2 linked regions of the Homo sapiens genome follow. The protein of the gene in region 2 purifies or fractionates together with the protein of the main gene of each other region. This does not show direct contact. Each region holds a gene or a part of one and is shown on either strand. Other genes may lie near its edges. The genes, in order: LIN28B and MTPAP.

The links.
Region 1: the proteins of MTPAP (region 2) and LIN28B purify together in Homo sapiens (co-immunoprecipitation; one large-scale study listed by IntAct). This does not show direct contact.

Annotation. Positions count from the first base shown.
Region 1 is NC_000006.12:104,955,797-104,960,139, reverse strand, and holds the start of LIN28B (protein lin-28 homolog B), read right to left. Parts: upstream 3,034-4,343; 5' UTR 2,890-3,033; coding exon 2,880-2,889; intron 2,042-2,879; coding exon 1,854-2,041; intron 1-1,853. UniProt on the Homo sapiens protein: Suppressor of microRNA (miRNA) biogenesis, including that of let-7 and possibly of miR107, miR-143 and miR-200c.
Region 2 is NC_000010.11:30,311,115-30,314,933, forward strand, and holds part of MTPAP (poly(A) RNA polymerase, mitochondrial precursor), read right to left. Parts: intron 2,858-3,819; coding exon 2,495-2,857; 3' UTR 1-2,494. UniProt on the Homo sapiens protein: Polymerase that creates the 3' poly(A) tail of mitochondrial transcripts. Can use all four nucleotides, but has higher activity with ATP and UTP (in vitro). Plays a role in replication-dependent histone mRNA degradation.

The sequences.
Region 1 (4,343 bases), on a different chromosome or scaffold from region 2:
CTGTATGTAACTGAATATTAAGTCAACTATTTAAAAATCAATGTTTATAGTATAGAAACAGCTATATATTTAAAAAACTTCAGCAGCTACATGTTTTAATTCAGTGAATAGAGGAATGTTTATCAATATATAATCATTAAATAGTATAAACACAAATGTCTTGTTGTTCTAAACATTAACATTGGTTAATAAAATATCTTAACATTTGATGAATATTTTAGAAGGTAAACATAGAAAATCAAATTATAAAAAGGCGTGACCAGACAAAGAAGGGTTATTTTTTTCATTCATCTATAAAACAAATTTATGAGATCATAAAAAACAATTTAACAACCTAAAGAAGGTTCAAAGGTGGAAGAAAGAGCCTGAGAGAAAATGGATTTGTCTATGATTTTTGTCATCCAGTCTTAGAGGGGAAAAAACAGAAAATGTAGCTTCATTTTGCACTATAAAATAGGAAGCATAAAATCCAGTAGTCTGTATGTGGACTTGTATTTGTGTACTTAAACCCTGTTTCAATTCACAGATTATGCTGATCCTTCCACATATAAACAGCCAATAATGATGGCCAGGCCTTCAGGAAAGGAAAACACACACCACACAGCAAGGTCAGGAAGCTACCAAGCACCACAGGACAACAGATCAAAACAGAATGGTTTCATATGTTTCTATTGTTTATATATTTAATTTGAAGATGATATTCCTTAGGGAAGGGGGTATAAATATTACTAGGAACATGCAACACAGTATCAAATATATACTTTTCAAGCAAATATACCAAATATTTCACCCATGTATCTGTCAGTCAATCTGTAGTATTAACAGCCTTTCATTCAATTCTTTTTAACTTAGATTATCATGCCAAAATAAACCTCTTTAGTCGTAAACCTCTTTATTTCTAACTACAGAAAATTTATATTTACCTTTTTTTGAGGAAACAACCGGCTTCCATAAAAGTATCTTTTTTACTATAAAGGGATTAAGCAGTAGAGAGGAGTAAAGGCAGAAGTATTAATTCATTATTTCCTGGGTAAAATTTTGAAAATGGGAAGCAATGAAATTCTGTTTGGTATTAAAACATCTTTAAAAATTACAACACAATACGAGCAAAGGTGGAAATTTACCCCAAGTAGCAGACCAGCACATTTTAAACACACAAGCAAGAGCCGCCTCTGGCCACATGTTTTTTTGAGTTCAGTCTCTTAAAGAGACAGTATACGTAGACCAATGACTACACGGAGCACATTTCTAAAATGTTTATCAAGCATCCCTCTATTGCACGCATTTCTTTACAACCACATTAGGCCAACAGTGTTCTATTTTATTTTACTATGAAGTCAAATTATTTTGATCTGAATCTACAAAATGATTACAGGACAGGCAGCGATGAAATAATAAAGGGAGCTACTGTGACTAGAGGTGTCTAAAATAAGGCAATCTATACATTTCTTTCCACAGCAAACTGTTTCGCTTTGTTTTTTCAACCTTAAAATGATCATGTTTCTTCATTTTTCTACCCATTCACCAGATACAGGCGACAAAGTATATTGTATAGGTAATACCGGAAACAACAAGAACACTATTTCGCTGTAGAATGAAGCAGGGGGAAATGCTAATAACGTCAACCTTAATATATATAGTGAAATTTCAAATATTTTCTTTTCTCTTTAGACAGAAAACCCAGGAAAAGGCCCATACACGTACCCTAAACGTTGGACTACCTAGTGATTTCAGGGAAGATTTTGTCTTTCAATATACCGAAGGACATCTTATCGTACGTCTATTGGCATAACTACCGATCAGCTCCTCCACATGGAAAAAGATGAAGAGGGGGACAAAAAAGTTTGGCTTACTTGGTGTACAAATACATCGACTGGAATATCCAAGGGGCTTCCCTCTCGGTTTATCATGGAGATGAATCCAAATCCCATGCGCACATTGAACCACTTACAGTGGCCAGTTCCGCGCAAAACCTGGGATTCCTCCTCTGCCGGCTCCGGCAGCTTCCCGGGCTCTTCTCCACCACCTTTGCTAGCCCCGCCTGAGAAGGAACAGGACAAAAAAGTCAGTCTGTATTCCCATTCAATGTGCATTCAAAGATTAAAAAAAAAAAATTGCCTGCCTGGGGTTGGGGGGGAAGGGTAACAGAAAAAAAAAATTTTTTTTAATGGTTTGATTTCTTTTCTCCACAGAAAATACTTAAAATGAAAAGGGTTAAAAGGAAAGCGGGGGAGGGGGAAGCCACACTGTTCTATCGATCACACCAACTTCCACGTTTCTATACATACGTGTACTTATTCATTTAACTCCATTTTTCAGCCACATTTTACATTACAGCATGCGATACTTTACTTGTATATTGCTGATTTAATACTGATCCCATTGACAAAGAGAAATTTTCAGCGAAACTATTCTCTCCGGCGGGCACGAGGAGGAAAGAGAAATCGTGAAGATGGTTTAGAGCTACTAGTTAAGGCACATGGGGCAGCACTGAATCCAGCGTTATTTGCAATGTGCATTCCCCTCCCCCCCATAACTTTCAATTAAAGTTGGGGTGGAATGGGGGAGGGGGCAGGTGTATAAAAGTTTTCTTGGAATCACTAACTGAAACTGCGCTTAATCACACTCACACAATTCAAACAATAGCCCCCTGAAAGCTTTTCAAGTTGTGAATCAGTGTGGGCGGTACAAAACATTTTTGGAGATCTATAACAATAGGTTTGCAGAAAGCCCCACTGCGTGATGGGGGGTTGGGAGGTAATGCCCAGTATTGGGGTAAAAGGGGAAGGGGGGGACGGTCTAAGAAGGGTGGGAGAGGGGGAGGGGGAGGAGAAAAGAAGAAAGAAATTCACAGTAAAACAATAGAAAAGAAAATTAACCTTCGGCCATGTTGCCCCACGGGCCCTCAGCTCCAAACTCGTGAGATGAAAACTTTCCCTTTGGAACGGAGTGATCTTCTGCATCAATCTAACATCTTGATTTTGTGCGATCACAAATTTAGCTCGCATGGTCTAATGTGCTTTCCTTCTTTTGATTTTTTTCTCTCCTCTCTCCAGTTTCTGGCCCCCTGAGCACACGTGACTTTGTCAATTACATGCTTTCTTGCTACTAATTTCACCTCGTATCCTTAAGGGGCTGGCAAGAGGAAGAGATAACCAATCGCCATTTCATCTATGCTGACATCAAAATAATTTATGAATGAACACGAAAAACTCAAACATGTTATCTTAAAGACAATTTGGAACGCTTCTTTAGGATAAATCAGAATGCTGATTTCGTGCTTCTACTTAAACACAATGGAGGGACCTTGTGAATCATAGATTTAGAAAAAAAGGCAGTCATATATGTGCACACGCGTGCCTTACACACAAGCCTGACTAAAATCATGGGAGGGGGTCGTTTAAATAAAACAACCGATGTTAACGCTTTTTTTCCCCTTAAGAATTCAGCTATTCCATGGCAGTAAACCTGCTTGGAACGCTAATTTCATATTTAATTCAATTCTTAGAGGAAAATATATAATTTATAAAAGATCTAATTAAACCTAATTACATCCCCATGAAACTTTAGATAATGAAAACATACACCTAGGAAAAGGCAGAGGCACATAAATTACCTGATTATGCCCGAAATTTTTTCAAATTTAAAATAAAATCCTACTAGAAAAATCGTTTTCACCTTCATATAGTCAAATTGTGTTTAGGTAAACCATTTTGGAAAATTTTAGAGGGGGTTGGTAAGGAATTGTACTTCACAGGTTTCTCTGCCATCTCTTTCCGGGGGAGGAGATGTGATTAATGACTTCCTAAATAACAGCCCAGTTTTCCAGCCTAACATAGAGTGAACCTCAATCAGTGGCGATTGTTCCCCAAGAGCTGGAGGACATAGGGCAGGAGGGGGAGGGGATCGCCAGGCAGGGGAGGTGAAGAGGAGCCGCCAGGATAGGCGGCAGCAGAGTCAAAGAAAGAGGTGGGAGAGAAAAAAAGCCGGCGCGGGCAGGGGGTGGGGTGGAGAAAGAAGGACAAGTGGGAGAAAAAAGGTAAATTCATATCATATTGACTTGTACCCTGACATTTTAAAAGTCCACTACCAATGGCTAGAAGAGTTGAATAAACGAAAATGTAACAACGGATGAAGCTCCTACTGTCCTTCCTCAACTGACCCCCAGTTTCAAAATGCCTACCCCCTTTACCTTTCAAACTGGTTCAAACGATTGATTACAAGATGCTGGCAACAGTATTTCTGCCCTTATCGAATACTATAATAAATATTATAGATTAACTAAAAAGACTTTATTTCCTTTAAAATATAAAATATCGCTATTTTAAAACCTTAAAATGCAC
Region 2 (3,819 bases):
ACAGAAAAAAAAATTTCATTTAGAAACCCTTAAGTGGTTTATGCTTTTTAAGCTTTTTAAATCAATATGGATTTCTAGCCCAACAAAATAAAGAACAAATGAAAAATGGCTTTTAAAGACATCGCCTGTACAGAACACTGATATTTGTTGGTGTCAAATGTGCAATCCAATAGCACAGACACAAGGACACAGAATTCATTTGCTTCATAACAATGCTGAGTTTCTTAAAATATCCCATGCAGAACCCATTATAATTTCTGACATAAAATTTAAATGGGAAAAATTTTTAAAGTACTACAAACTCTAAATCTGAATTTTGAGTAGCAAAAAAGGTAATTACATACCACAAACACCGAAAGGCAACAGTTAAAGAGAAGTAACATTTACTTCGCGCCAGGAAAATGCACTGACCTAGCATTTTCCTACATCCCTCGCTTAATCCTCACATTGATCTGATCATGATCCCCATTTTACAGATCAAACAGGGGCCCCAAGAGACTGAGTAACTTGTCATTGAGCCAGTCTCGCTCAAGTCTGTTTTTAAACACTATACTACTTGCTTCTTTTCCTTTGAGAGAGTCTCACTGTCGCCCAGGATGGAGTACAGTGCTGTGATCTCAGCTCACTGCAGCCTCTGCCTCCCAGGTTCAAGCAGTCCTTGTGCCTCGGCCTCCCAAGTACCTGGGACTACAGGCATGTGCCGCTATGCCCAGGCCTTACTTGCTTCTTAAATAGAAAGTTACTCCACAGAAGCCAGGTGCAGTGGCTCACGCCTGTAATTCCAACACTTTGGAAGGCCAAGGTGGGCGATCACCTGAGGTCAGGAGTTCGAGATCAGCCTGGCCAACATGGTGAAACCCTGTCCCTACTAAAACTACAAAAATTAGCTGGGCTTGGTGGTGGGCGCCTGTAATCCCAGCTGAGGCAGGAGAATCACTTGAATCCGGGAGGCGGAGGTTGCAGTGAGCTGAGATTGTGCCATTGCACCCCAGCCTGGGCAACAAGAGCAAAACTCCGTCTCAGAAACAAAACGAAACAAAGCAAAAAAGTTGCTCCACAGAGAATGTAATGGAAATTAAATTTCAATATACAGTTGCCCATTGAACAACATGGGTTTCAACTGCGAAGTCCATTTACACACAGATTTTTTCCAACCAAACTTGGATTGAAAATACAGTATTCTCGGCCAGGCATGGTGGCTCACGCTTGTAATCCCAGCACTTTGGGAGGTTGAGGTGGGCTGATCACGAGGTCGGGAGATCGAGACCATGGTGAAACCCTGTCTCTACTAAAAATACAAAAAAATTGTCCGGGCGTGGTGGCGGGCACCTATAGTCCCAGCTACTCAGAGAGGCTGAGGCAGGAGAATGGCGTGAACCTGGGAGGCAGAGCTTGCAGTGAGCCGAGATTGCGCCACTGCACTCTAGCCTGGGCGACAGAGCGAGACTCTGTCTCAAAAAAAAAAAAAAAAAAAAAAGAAAGAAAGAAAATACAGTACTTTCACAGGATGCAAAATCTGCTTATGTGCAAGGTGGAATTCTCCCATGCACGGGCTCCACAGGACTGAAGGAGTTCAGTGTGTGCAGATCTGGGTGTACGTGGATGGTCCTGGAACCAATTTTCTGCATATACTGAGAGACAAATATGTCTCTTTCCTGCAGGAAGAGGGGAGTTCTCAAAAGAGATGTGAAGGAATACTGGGAATATCACATTTTAGTTAGAAACAGAATTTTATTTTTGAAAATAGAAAAATCAAACAATATTTTTAAAATGCAATCTATTGATGTCATCATATTTGGTTTGGAATACCTAAGAATGCAGTGACTGAAATGTCTGTTCTAAAAACATAAACATTTTTTGATATCAGTACCAACCCACTTTAATTTATATGTGAATAAGAGAACTTCGCTTGAAAAATACAAATATACATATTCGAGAGCACTACCAAATTTTGAAGCTTAATGTATTCATTGCCAACGTACTGTACATAACTAAAAGTCATTTTAAATGTTTTCTAAACAGGGACTGATGTGGATATCAACAATGGTTTCATCCTAAAACTGAGTTTTAGCATTTGTTTAGTATATTTACCTATTTAGTTAAAGCACATTACAATAATCTTTCACCCATTCCTTGTGGCTTATGTTTATTTTCATTTTTTTTAGAGATGGAATCTTGCTATGTTGTCCACGATGGATTCAAAATCCTGGGCTCAAGAGATCCTCCTGCCTCAGCCTCCTGAGCAGCTGGGACTACAGGTGTGCACCGCCACACTCCACAGCTGATGTTTTAATAAAGTGCCACTGAGTATCAGACTGATCAAACTGAAAACATCCCAGAACTTCAGACCAGGTTAAGGGGGCCAATGAGAAGATCATGAAAAGTGACATCAGATGAAAGCTGAGATCTGTGAAAGTTTCAAATCAGTTTTTCCAAGTAAGTCCACAGACCATTTGATAGGCTAAGCCCAGTTCTTTACACAATGTAGCAGCCATCATGTCTGAGTACTAATTGTTCTCTTCCCACTGGTTTTTGTGAAATTTTCTGTTCTGTTACCTTTTAAAGATTCTAGCAAGTTTTTGACTGTTTCAATTGCAAACTTATTGCTTTTCTTCTTGGTAAAGGACTTTCTGTTTGGAGCAGATGGTAGCAATAGGGATACCAGCCCCCAGGGCCGATTACTTGATATGGAAGGTCGATCTGTATCTTCCTGTTGTAAAATCCAGGCACTTTCTCGGGCCAAATCTACAAATTTTTGCAGCTGGCTTTGACTTACATTTTTGCTTATGTTGAGAGAAGTTTCAAATGGATTCTGAATGTACAGAGGAGAAGAATCAGGTTTGTTTTGCTCCCTTCCCTATAGATTATTACACAGAAGAAAAAATGAGTAAGTACATGAAGGGCTTAAATATAAAAACAGTTAACTCAATAAAATGTCAAAACACATAAAACACCAGCATTAACTTTACATAGCAAAGAATTTCTTTCTCAGGGGATTGAGTATGTATGCATGGTGGGTGTGTGTACTTCTCATTTTTTGTTTTTTTTTTCCCTGTTGTAAGTTTTATGAGTGTTCTTTGGAGAAATAACTTAGGGCTTATCATCTATGGATGATGATGTCATTGCTCAGAGAAGAGGTATCTGGACTAACTCAACCGACAAAAGTATTTTTAAAATAATATAACTTTTACCTAACAAGGTAGAGCATGAAAGGGAAAAAAATGATTAAAAAATCAGAAAGTAAGATGAAGATACGTTTATTTCTGAGACTTGCTAAAAGCATACCTATTATGGTAGAAACAGGAACACACAAAATTAGAACCCTTAAATTAAATATATTAATTAATGTTTCCCAAGTATGAGATGAGGAAAAAGAGGAGGAACAAAGGATTATTCATTATTTATTTAAAACACTAAAAAGTTTCCATTATCTTCCTATAGATCCAACAAAAGGGCTCTGCCACATAAGATAGTATCTCACAGAAATAAAAAAGATAACTGTAATCCAAGCATTTTGGGAGGCCGAGGCAGGTGGAACACCTGAGGTCAGGAGTTCAAGACAGGCCTGACCAACATGGTGAAATCCCATCTCTACTAAAAATACAAAACTAGCCAGGTGTTGTGGCGCATGCCTGTAATCCCAGCTACTTAGGAGGCTGAGGCAGGAGAATCACTTGAACCCAGGAGGCGGAGGCTGCAGTGAGCCAAGATCATGCCACTGCACTCCAGCCTGGGCAATACAGTGAGACTCTGTCTCAAAAAACAAAAACAAAAAAAAAAAAAAAAAAAAAGAAGAGAAAAGAAAAAGAAAAGCTAAAG